Regions from separate parts of the Homo sapiens genome. Here regions 1 and 3 are each reported to be linked to region 2. Evidence: microRNA targets listed by miRTarBase, many of them from high-throughput screens and not tested one by one. Region 2 holds a microRNA gene; each other region holds the end of a gene's coding sequence.
What was found. The annotated mature microRNA hsa-miR-6855-3p reads AGACUGACCUUCAACCCCACAG and lies in region 2 at 2,313-2,334, opposite strand. An mRNA with a match to its seed (bases 2 to 7 or 8) in the 3' UTR can be bound and repressed. Matches are read on the target gene's strand: a 7mer-m8 pairs with bases 2 to 8, a 7mer-A1 pairs with bases 2 to 7 and ends in A, and an 8mer does both.

Region 1: the mRNA of KAT6B is a reported target of hsa-miR-6855-3p. Seed matches in the 3' UTR shown: 8mer at 1,673-1,680.
Region 3: miRTarBase lists ZNF440 as a target of hsa-miR-6855-3p. Seed matches in the 3' UTR shown: 7mer-A1 at 1,130-1,136.

Annotation. Positions count from the first base shown.
Region 1 is chr10:75,030,539-75,033,890 of GRCh38, forward strand. KAT6B (lysine acetyltransferase 6B) reads left to right here. Exons shown (of 18, transcript NM_012330.4): 18 at 1-2,086. The coding sequence ends at 508. Among named protein-coding and RNA genes, the nearest start is that of SNORD172, 10 kb to the left of the region's middle. RefSeq lists enhancers at 1-86, 2,707-2,756.
Region 2 is chr9:129,868,635-129,871,983 of GRCh38, reverse strand. It overlaps MIR6855 (microRNA 6855), which reads right to left and starts at 2,379; the gene lies at 2,313-2,379. It overlaps USP20 (ubiquitin specific peptidase 20), which reads right to left. Exons shown (of 26, transcript NM_001110303.4): 12 at 2,982-3,122; 13 at 2,559-2,674; 14 at 2,140-2,312; 15 at 1,437-1,531. RefSeq lists an enhancer at 1,265-1,764.
Region 3 is chr19:11,832,581-11,835,580 of GRCh38, reverse strand. It overlaps ZNF440 (zinc finger protein 440), which reads right to left. Exons shown (of 4, transcript NM_152357.3): 4 at 365-3,000. The coding sequence ends at 2,617. Among named protein-coding and RNA genes, the nearest start is that of ZNF439, 15 kb to the left of the region's middle.

The sequences.
Region 1 (3,352 bases), not on the chromosome of region 2:
TGGCATCTCTCACAGCCAAAGACTGCAAACCCAGATTGCCAGCAAGGGCCACATCTCCATGAGAACCAAGTCAGCGTCTCTGTCACCAGCCGCTGCCACCCATCAGTCACAAATCTATGGGCGCTCCCAGACTGTAGCCATGCAGGGTCCTGCACGGACTTTAACGATGCAAAGAGGCATGAACATGAGTGTGAACCTGATGCCAGCGCCAGCCTACAATGTCAACTCTGTGAACATGAACATGAACACTCTCAACGCCATGAATGGGTACAGCATGTCCCAGCCAATGATGAACAGTGGCTACCACAGCAATCATGGCTATATGAATCAAACGCCCCAATACCCTATGCAGATGCAGATGGGCATGATGGGCACCCAGCCATATGCCCAGCAGCCAATGCAGACCCCACCCCACGGTAACATGATGTACACGGCCCCCGGACATCACGGCTACATGAACACAGGCATGTCCAAACAGTCTCTCAATGGCTCCTACATGAGAAGGTAGACAACGTGGGCAGTCCACAAAACCTACGGGGCATCACTATTGGATTGATCTGCACAAATACCTTTGAAGAGTACGATTTCAAAACCAGCAATTGGTGTGAATGCAAAAACATTTGTTGGCACCATTTATTTAAAAAAAAAAAAAGCTGTATGCAGCAGAAAGCCTTATACAAGTTGTTTTTCTTTTTTTCCTTTTTCTTTTTTTTGGTACCTTCATTTCTGTTACTTTTATATAAAATTCTCTGCAAAGGAAGGCCTCTCTTTGGACTACAATTTGGAGGCAGCCACTTGTTGTGCCTGCTTCTGTTAAACAATGTGGATATCAAGCCCCCCCAAATTATCTGTTTTAATATTGAACCTAGAGCTTTTTTTTTCCCTTCCCTGTCCACTCCATGTAAATGCCTTTAGCATTTCAGTTATTGTATATTTTGTTTAAGGTGACACTTCAGCATGCCGCTAATGTCTTTGTTAGTGACAGTGCATTTTGTAGTACTGTACAAGTGTTGTGCTAACAGTAAGCCATTTCTTAAGTTTTTTGCCTTGATTAGGGTGCCCTAATTTGAGGGTTTTAAAAAAAACTATATTTTTGTTAATTATAAAACTGTAAAGAGCTATAAAAGCTATTCCCATTTGGTTAGTCAAAAGGGTTTTATTGCTAAATGTTTGGTGTAAAGTTGAGACCCTTTTCCATTTTGGTGACAGATTTCTTTGGGGAAAAAAGGCAGCTTTCTGTTTTATAAATGCAGACTTCTGTTTATTGAATGAAGCATATCTCAGTGTTTATCTGTCAGGTTTTGAAACATTTCATATATGTCCAAATACTTGGCAGGATTTAAAAAAAAATAGTGAATTTGGTGTAAAGTTGCTATTTTATGGAAATGCCTCTAACTTTACATTTTCATTCCATCTGTAGATTTTTCTATCTTTATAAAATATTGGAGTTATTTTTTAAGGAAAAATAGAAAAGTAGCTTGTGAATAGCTCAAACTAAGCTTACAAATCGCATGTAAAAAAGCAAAAAAGTTATTTGTGTCTGTTTATATTGCTTCCTTTTTTGTAGCCTTTGTACCTGTACAGGGTGACAGTAAGGGCCAAGCAGGAGAGGCGTAATCCTTGTATAAAATAGGATCCAGCGACACTCTTGTATTTATCTGTTCTCTTTTTAGTCAGTCACTTCAAAAAAACAAAAAACAAACAAAAAAAAGCTGTACATTTTAACATAAAATAAATTATGATGAGCCATTTTTAGCCTCTTGTGTCCTGTCATATTATGATTGATAGAGAATGACCAATGGAACTGTATCATGTGTCACGCCTCAGAACACATACACATTTTGGGAAAATAAATTATTTAGTGTAAATTGGAGTTATGGGATTTTCTGATTTGTTTTGACTTTGGGGGAGGGGTTGGCAATAAATAAGAGTAATATCTAATAAAACCATCACATATACCAAATACCTATTTAATAAATTAATTTATAATGGATTTTAATGCTTTTCATGAAAGTTTATTTTATGCGAGTGCATACCTTCTGTATGCCAATCATTGTCTTTAAAATAAAGTGAAATTGTTTTTTTCTTTTGGACTTTGATCTTCATTTGCAAAGAGATCCCGCACAAATATCCAGCTGCCTCACTCGCACAGTCTGTAGAAACATCCCTCCAAGCCTCGCACCAGGGTAGCAAACTTCCTTTTTATAAAGATTCATACCAAAAAAAGCACCCAATTTGGGATTGTATGTTTGAAAAATCATTTTCTTTTTAAAAAGTGTGAACGTTTTGCTCTGTTGTGAATGATTAATTGTATGTTTTCTTTAGAGTCTAAAGTTTAGACCCCCTGCCAAAAGTGAATATTCACAAGTATAGCGTTCAGAGAAAGTTCTGAGTGTTGCTTGAATTTGGTTATTTGAGCAACAAGTCTAGAAATGAATGCTTGACCTAGCACCCGTGTGAAACTAGCCCGTTAAGCTCTCCAGGTGTCTGAACACGTGTGCTCGCAACTCCTCTGTTAAGCAGGTCACTACCCTGTGGAGGAAAAAAGTTGCTTTTGCACTGTTGATTCAACACACACACACAAAAATTAGATGTTTTACAAAGCATAGACATAAGCCTTAAAGTGGACCCAAAATCGTGCAAGGGCAGGATAGAGCGTACACACCAGAATAAAAGGCCTTGTGCAGACAGAGGGTGCCCAGTGGAGTTCTGCCTTGTACTCTCACCCTTATCGTTATTTTCTTTCACAGTTACAAAGTGTATTGGGTTTAGTGTCACAATTTTATCTTTTAGTCCCTTCCTTCCTCAACTGCAAAGTCAATGGGGGTAATATATGTAACAGCTGAGGGAGGGCTTTCAAGAAGACACGTCTGAAGGGCCGTCAGCACAAAGGGAAAAGATCCATTTAAGCTGCTGTGCTAATAGGAAAAGAAACCTATCAGCCATCCTCAGAGTAGGAAGTGGTGGTCTATGCCTGCACAAATCGAACACTGCGTCCATTCAGGAGTGGCCAAGGACTGGGCAGCCCAGTGGGCCACACATCGGGCAAGAGGCTGCCCGAGCCCTGGAGGTGGGGTTGGGGCCTGGAAGCAATCTGATCGGGAAGCAGAGCCCCGAACGGGCTCCGACCTGTCACATATTTTGTCTCTTTCCTCTTGGGTTAAGATTCTCTGGGGGCTGAGATTCCCCTCTGTGTTCCCTTTGGCCATGACCTGCTAATCACACCTTGTGGTTTGTGCGATGTCTGAGTTCCCATACCCTGCCAGCCTAACAGCCCTCTAAAGGAGCTTGTGGAAGAGTCCCAATCATTGCCCCAGACCTGCCAAACCCTAATCTTAGAACAGTCCCAGGG
Region 2 (3,349 bases):
AGCACTTTGGGAGACCAAGGCAGGCGGATCACCTGAGGTCAGGAGTTCAAGACCAGCCTGGCCAACATGGTGAAACCCCATTCTACTAAAAATACAAAAATTAGCCAGCCGTGGTGGCATGTGCCTGTAATCCCAGCTACTCGGGAGGCTGAGGCAGGAGAATCGCTTAAACCCAGGAGGTGGAGGTTGCAATAAGCCGAGATCATGCCATTGCACTCCAGCCTGGGCGTCAAGAGAGAGACTCCGTCTCAAAAACAAAACAAAACAAAACAAAAAAAACGCACAATGAGATACCACCTCATACCCATGAGGTTGACTCCCATCAAAAAAGTAAACAAAATGAGTGTGGACGACGATGTGGAGAAACTGGAACTCTTGTGCGTCACTGGTGGGAATGTGAAATGGGGTGGCCACTGTGGAACCCAGTACGGTGGCTCCTCGAGAAATTAAAAATAGGCATAGACCCAAAGGGATGAAAGAAGAGAGGTGTGCACACCCATGGTCAGAGCAGCATTCCTCACAATAGCTAACAGGGAAGCGGCCTGAGTGTCCACTGACGGATGAACGAATAAGCAGAAAGGCCCCAGCCATCCACACAATGGAACAATAAATAACCAGCATACAAAAGGCAGGGCATTCCGACACACACGCTGCAACGTGGATGAACCCTAAGGACGTTATGCTCAGTAAAAGCCGTCAGTCACAAAATGGCAAGTACTGTATAATTCCACTTCTATGAGGCCTTTAGAGTAGTCACATTCACAGACTTGAATGTGGAGGTTGCCAGGGGCTGGGAGGTGGGAGTAGGGAGCTGTTTCACGGATACTGAGTTTCAGGTTTGCAAGATGTAAAAGTTCTGGAGATGAATGGGGAGGATGGCTGCGTGACCATGTGCATGTATTTAACACTACTCGACTGTGCACTTTCTGTTAAAAACAGCATTTACAATGGTTATGGTGGTAAATTTTACATTTTGTGTATTTTATCGCAATTGAAAATTGGAAATAAAAAAAAAAGAGAGAGTTTTCCCAAAGGTTTAGATGCCAAATAGCCAACGGAGAAAAAGAACAAGAACAGGAATGGGCAATGTTTAAATAAATACATAGAGCCAGTATATTTAACAAAAAATGTAGAAACTCATCAGTAATCAAGGAAATGAAAAATTAACATACATCATTTTTGCCCACCAAATTGGTAAAAATAAAAATAAGTGAACACTCAAGAGCTGCAAGATGATGGGGTTGGGATAGCACATGGCCCTGGTCCAGCGTGGCTGGCAGTGGGCGTGGGTATCTGATGGGATCAACCTTGGAAGCCAAGTCTAGCCTGGCTGTGCATCCCACAAGCCCTGGGCTGCATGCTGGCCTGCTGGGGTCTGCACATCCCCGTCCCCACAACCCTCCACCTCCCCGACCCTTGCCAGCCAGGCCCCTCACCCTTTAACTCATCAGCGGCAAAGAAGGCAGCAAGGCAGTCTTCCAGGGTGACGACAGGCCCCCAAAACCAGCTGGGGGTACAGGATACCACAAACCTACAGACAGAAAAGGAGTGCAGGGGTGCTGCCAGGGCCTGGGCAAGAACAGGAGCTGAAGGGACTCTGGCTGAGGTCTGTCAGGCCTGAGCCGCAGAAGGACCCTGAAGGCCCAGAGAAGCAGCCGGGCACGGCGGGTCGGGGCAGAGGCCTGGAGCCAGACACGTCCGTGTCCTGGGCCGAGTGACATCATCTCTCCGCAAGCCTGGCCTCCTTCATCTGTGTTGCGGCCATGATCATGCTACCCCCTCCCTGGGGTCATGCGGGTCTCTGGCCTCAGGCAGGAGAGGCAGCCCTGGGAAAGCTGCTGCCCTTCCCGCCAACCAGGCCTGTGTCCTGCTGCTGCCCTCCCTTCAACCTGCCATGTGGTCACCTCCCTGCTGTCCATCGCCCTCCAGCTCCAAGGGACTATCCAATCCTGGCCACTTCAAAGTAGCCAAGAAATCCCCTGCATATTAAGCCAACTCCTCTGCAGGCTTCGGCCCCCAGCTCCTCCCAGGACCTCCCTGGTTCCCCAAATGCATGGACTTCACTGTGTACTGTCTCCCGCCCAGGAAAACCAGGACAGGCCCAGCCCATGTCGCCCAGTAGTGGCAAGGTGGGCGCACCGTCGGATGTACTCCACAATGAAGGCCAGCCAGCCCTGGGCGGCATAGCTGTCCCCACAGGCGCCTGGCTTGGCCGGCACATTCTGGTAGATGGCTGAATGGAGCTTGGCCAGGTCCTCCTTTCCAGGAATGGGCAGTGATAAGTCCTGGAACGTTTCCACTGTGGTGGATACCTGTGGGGTTGAAGGTCAGTCTGCTGCCCATCCTCTGGCAATGTCTGCACCCCAAACCCCAAGCAGCAGGTGAGGGGCAGAGGGACTACTCCCCAGGCCATAGACACGGGATCCACGCAGGCAGGGCCCTCCCCTGGATAAAAGCAGGGAGCACCCGTGGAGAGCCCACCCTGCACCCAGTCAGGGCAAGAGCTGCTGAGGCCACTGGCAGCCTGGCCCAGCTCCCCCCATCCCTGGGGCACCCACCCGGTCACAGGTGAGACACTGCACAAGGCTGAGAATGGAGCCGTCAAAGATGTCTGAGATGACGCTGCGGTAGCGCTGCTCCTTCCGCCTCCGGCTGCCAGCACTCAATACCTGGGCTGGGGACACAGCACAGGACTAGCCCAGCCTCCACCTGCCTGGCCGGGGCGAGGTGCGGGCCCTGCGGCTTCCTTTGACAGGATGTGGAGTGACATCCGTGAGTCACATGACTGGGTAAGCAATTCACCATCTCATGCCTCTGTGTCATCCTCTGCAAAACGTGGCTCCCACACTGGTGTCTCAGGGGTGTACCTGAGAGGAGCCCATAGCCCGGCCCTCCGCCACAGGGGGCCATGAGAAAGGCAGCTACGGGCGTAATCTGTACTCCCAGCCTCAAGCTGACCCACCCTCCCGTGCCCCCCGAACCTTTCTTGAGCACGTACGACGGTGCCATCCTCACGGGGCTTGCACGAGGGGGGCTGCTAGACAGCTTGGCATGGCCCTCGTGGTGGTGGACGGGGCTGCAGGGGCGAGAGGAGCTGCGTAGGTGAGCATCATTGTCCGGCTCTGGGGGCAGAGAGGGTACCATGCTGGGCCAGGGCAGCCAGGCCAGCTCCACGAGTGGGCAGGAAGATGACCTGCCAGCCCCTCCTAAAGGGACGAAAGCCTGACCCTAATGTGTCTCCTCTGTCATGTGCCCACTCCTGGCCCCAGCACACAGGCCGGAGCAGACCTGTCCAATCCATGTCCGGCTGGAAGGCTCAGGGCTCTGGGAGAGGGCTCTGAATTGGGCT
Region 3 (3,000 bases), not on the chromosome of region 2:
TATGACTCAGTAAAGCAATTTGAAAAAATATAGCTTTATAAGGCATAAACAAATTTATATGTTTTAACTAAGGTACTTTCTGGTAAACAGTGCCTGTACATTTTAGGAAATATTTTAGTCTTTAGAGAATAAGTAAGGCAAAAACAGGTCCAGGAGTTTACAGATGCCCTCCCCTCACCACAAGGCCAAGTCTTTTTTTTTTTTTTTTTTTTTTTGAGATGGAGTCTTGCTCTGTCGTCCAGGTTGGAGTGCAATGGCGCGATCTTGGCTCACTGCAAGCTCCACCTCACAGGTTCACACCATTCTCCTGCCTCAGCCTCCCAAGTAGCTGGGACTGCAGGAGCCTGAGACCACGCCTCACTAATTTTTTGTATTTTTTAGTAGAGACTGGGTTTCACTGTGTTGGCCAGGATGGTCTCCATTTCCTGACCTAGTGATCCGCCCGCCTCGGCCTCCCAAAGTGCTGGGATTATAGGCGTGAGCCACCGCACTCGGCCCTAAGGCCAAGTCTTTTTTTGTGTTTTTTAAGACAGAGTTTCACTCTTGTTGCCCAGGCTGGAGTACAATGGTGCAACCTCGGCTCACTGCAACCTCTGCTTCCTATATTCAAGCAATTCTCCTATGTCAGCCTCCTGAATAGCTAGGATTACAGGAGCATGCCACCACGCCCTGCTAACTTTTGTATTTTTAGTAGAGACGGGGTTTGATCATATTGGTCAGAATGGTCTCTAACTCCTGACCTCGGCCTCCCAAAGTGCTGGGATTACAGGCGTGAGCCACCATGCCCAGCCAAGGCCAAGTCTTTTATTGTTGGAGAGACACGTGTCACATACCAGGCATATGAGACGATGCTCCTCAGTGACCATGATGAATCAGGACAAAAACAAGGGCATTTTGTAACTATATTTTTAAATGTGATAGAGGAAAACGTATTTCAAATCATAAACATGACCAAAATTTTTCTCTTCTTACTAATGTGACTTGTAATTCTCATACATCTCACAGTCATTTATGGCTTTTGGTCATATTTATCACTATGGTATATTACACCCTTGCTGACAGCAGGTATGGCACTGCTGGTTTTGGGGAAGAAGGCACTCAGAGGTGCATGAGATAACTATTGGTATTATGACTGAATGAAAAATTAGGGTTGCAGCTGGGCATGATGGTTCATGTCTGTAATCCCAGCATTTTGGGAGGCCGAGGTGGGTAAATCATGAGGTCTGGAGTTTGAGACCAGCCTAGCCAATATGGTGAAACCCCGTCTCTACTAAAAAATACAAAAAATTAGCCTGGCATGGTGGCGCATGCCTGTAGTCCCAGCTACTCAGGAGACTGAGGCAGGAGAATTGCTTGAACCCTGGAGGCAGAGGTTGCAGTGACCTGAGATCATGCCACTGCACTCCAGCCTGGGTGACAGAGTGAGATTCTTTCTGGGGGAAAAAAAAAAAGAAAGAAAAATTAAGGTTGAGATAAAAATGTAAGTACAGAAGCATGAAAAGTAAAATTTTCGAATAAAAAGATGTCTGGCATTTTATCCACATGGTTATACTGACTCACAATGTCCAAATAATAACAATTTAACAGTATAAGGCTGATCTAATACATGACACCAATGGGATATTATAGCTTCTTATTTAAAAAGAATATCATTTGTTAGTATACAGTTATTATAAACAGTTAATTGTTTACATTCATTATCTGTATTCAAAGAATCTTGTCAGGTCTGAACGCTTTCCCATACTGCTTACATTCATAGGGTTTTTCTCCAGTGTGAGTCCTTCCATGCATTTGAAGGTGCGAGGCTGATCTGAAGGCTTTCCCACATTGCTTATATTCATAGGGCTTCTCTCCAGTGTGAGTCCTTTCATGATATTGAAGGGAACTAGAAGAAATGAAGGCTTTCCCACTTGGCATACACTCATAGGGTTTCTCTCCCATGTGAGTCCTTTCATGATATTGAAAAGAAGTGGAAGAAATAAAGGCTTTTGCACATTGCTTACATTGATAGGGTTTCTCCCTAGTGTGTTCTTTCATGATATTGAAAAGAACTGGAAGAAGTGAAAGCTTTGCCACATTGCTTGCATTCATAGTGTTTCCTTCCAGTGTGAGTCTTTTCATGTCTATGAAAGGAAGTAGGCAAGCTGAATGCTTTTCTGCATTCTTTACATTCATAGGGTTTCTCTCCATTGTGTGTTCTTGCATGTATTCAAAGGATCTTGGCAGATATGAATGCTTTCCCACAATGCTTACATTCACAGAGCTTCTCTCCTCTGTGCATCCTTTCATGTATTTGCAAAGAAGAGAAATTATGGAATGCTTTTCTACATTTCTTACATTCACAGGGTTTCTCTCCAGTGTGTGTCCTTTTATGAAATCGAAGATTTTTGACAGATCTGAAGGCTTTCCCAAATTGCTTACACTCATAGGGGTTCTCTCCAGTGTGAGTCCTTTCATGATATCGAAAGGAAGTGAAGGAAACAAAGGCTTTCCCACATTGCTTACACTCATAGGGTTTCTCTCCAGTGTAAGATTTTTCATGTATTTGAAATGACTTGGCAGAATAAAAGCCCCTCCCACATATCTTACATTTATAAGGTCTCTCTACAGAGTGCATTATGTGTGTTTGTGTCCTTTCATGAATTCGAAGGTTCTGGGCAGATCCGAAGGGTTTCCCACATTCCTTACATGCATAGGGCTTCTCTCCATTGTGTGTCCTACCACGTATTCAAAGGTGTGGGGCAGATCTGAAGGCTTTCCGTCATTGCTCACACTCATAGGGTTTCTCTTCAGGGTGAGTCCTACCATGCATTCAAAGGATTGACACAGCTCTGAAGGCTTTCCCACATTGCTCGCATTTATAGGGCTTCTCTCCAGTGTGAGTCCTTTCATGATATCAAAAGGAACTGGAACTACTGAAGGAACTACTGAACGTTGCTTGCATTCATAGAGTTTCTCTCCAGTGTGAGTTTTTTCATGTCTTTGAAATGATTTGGGACA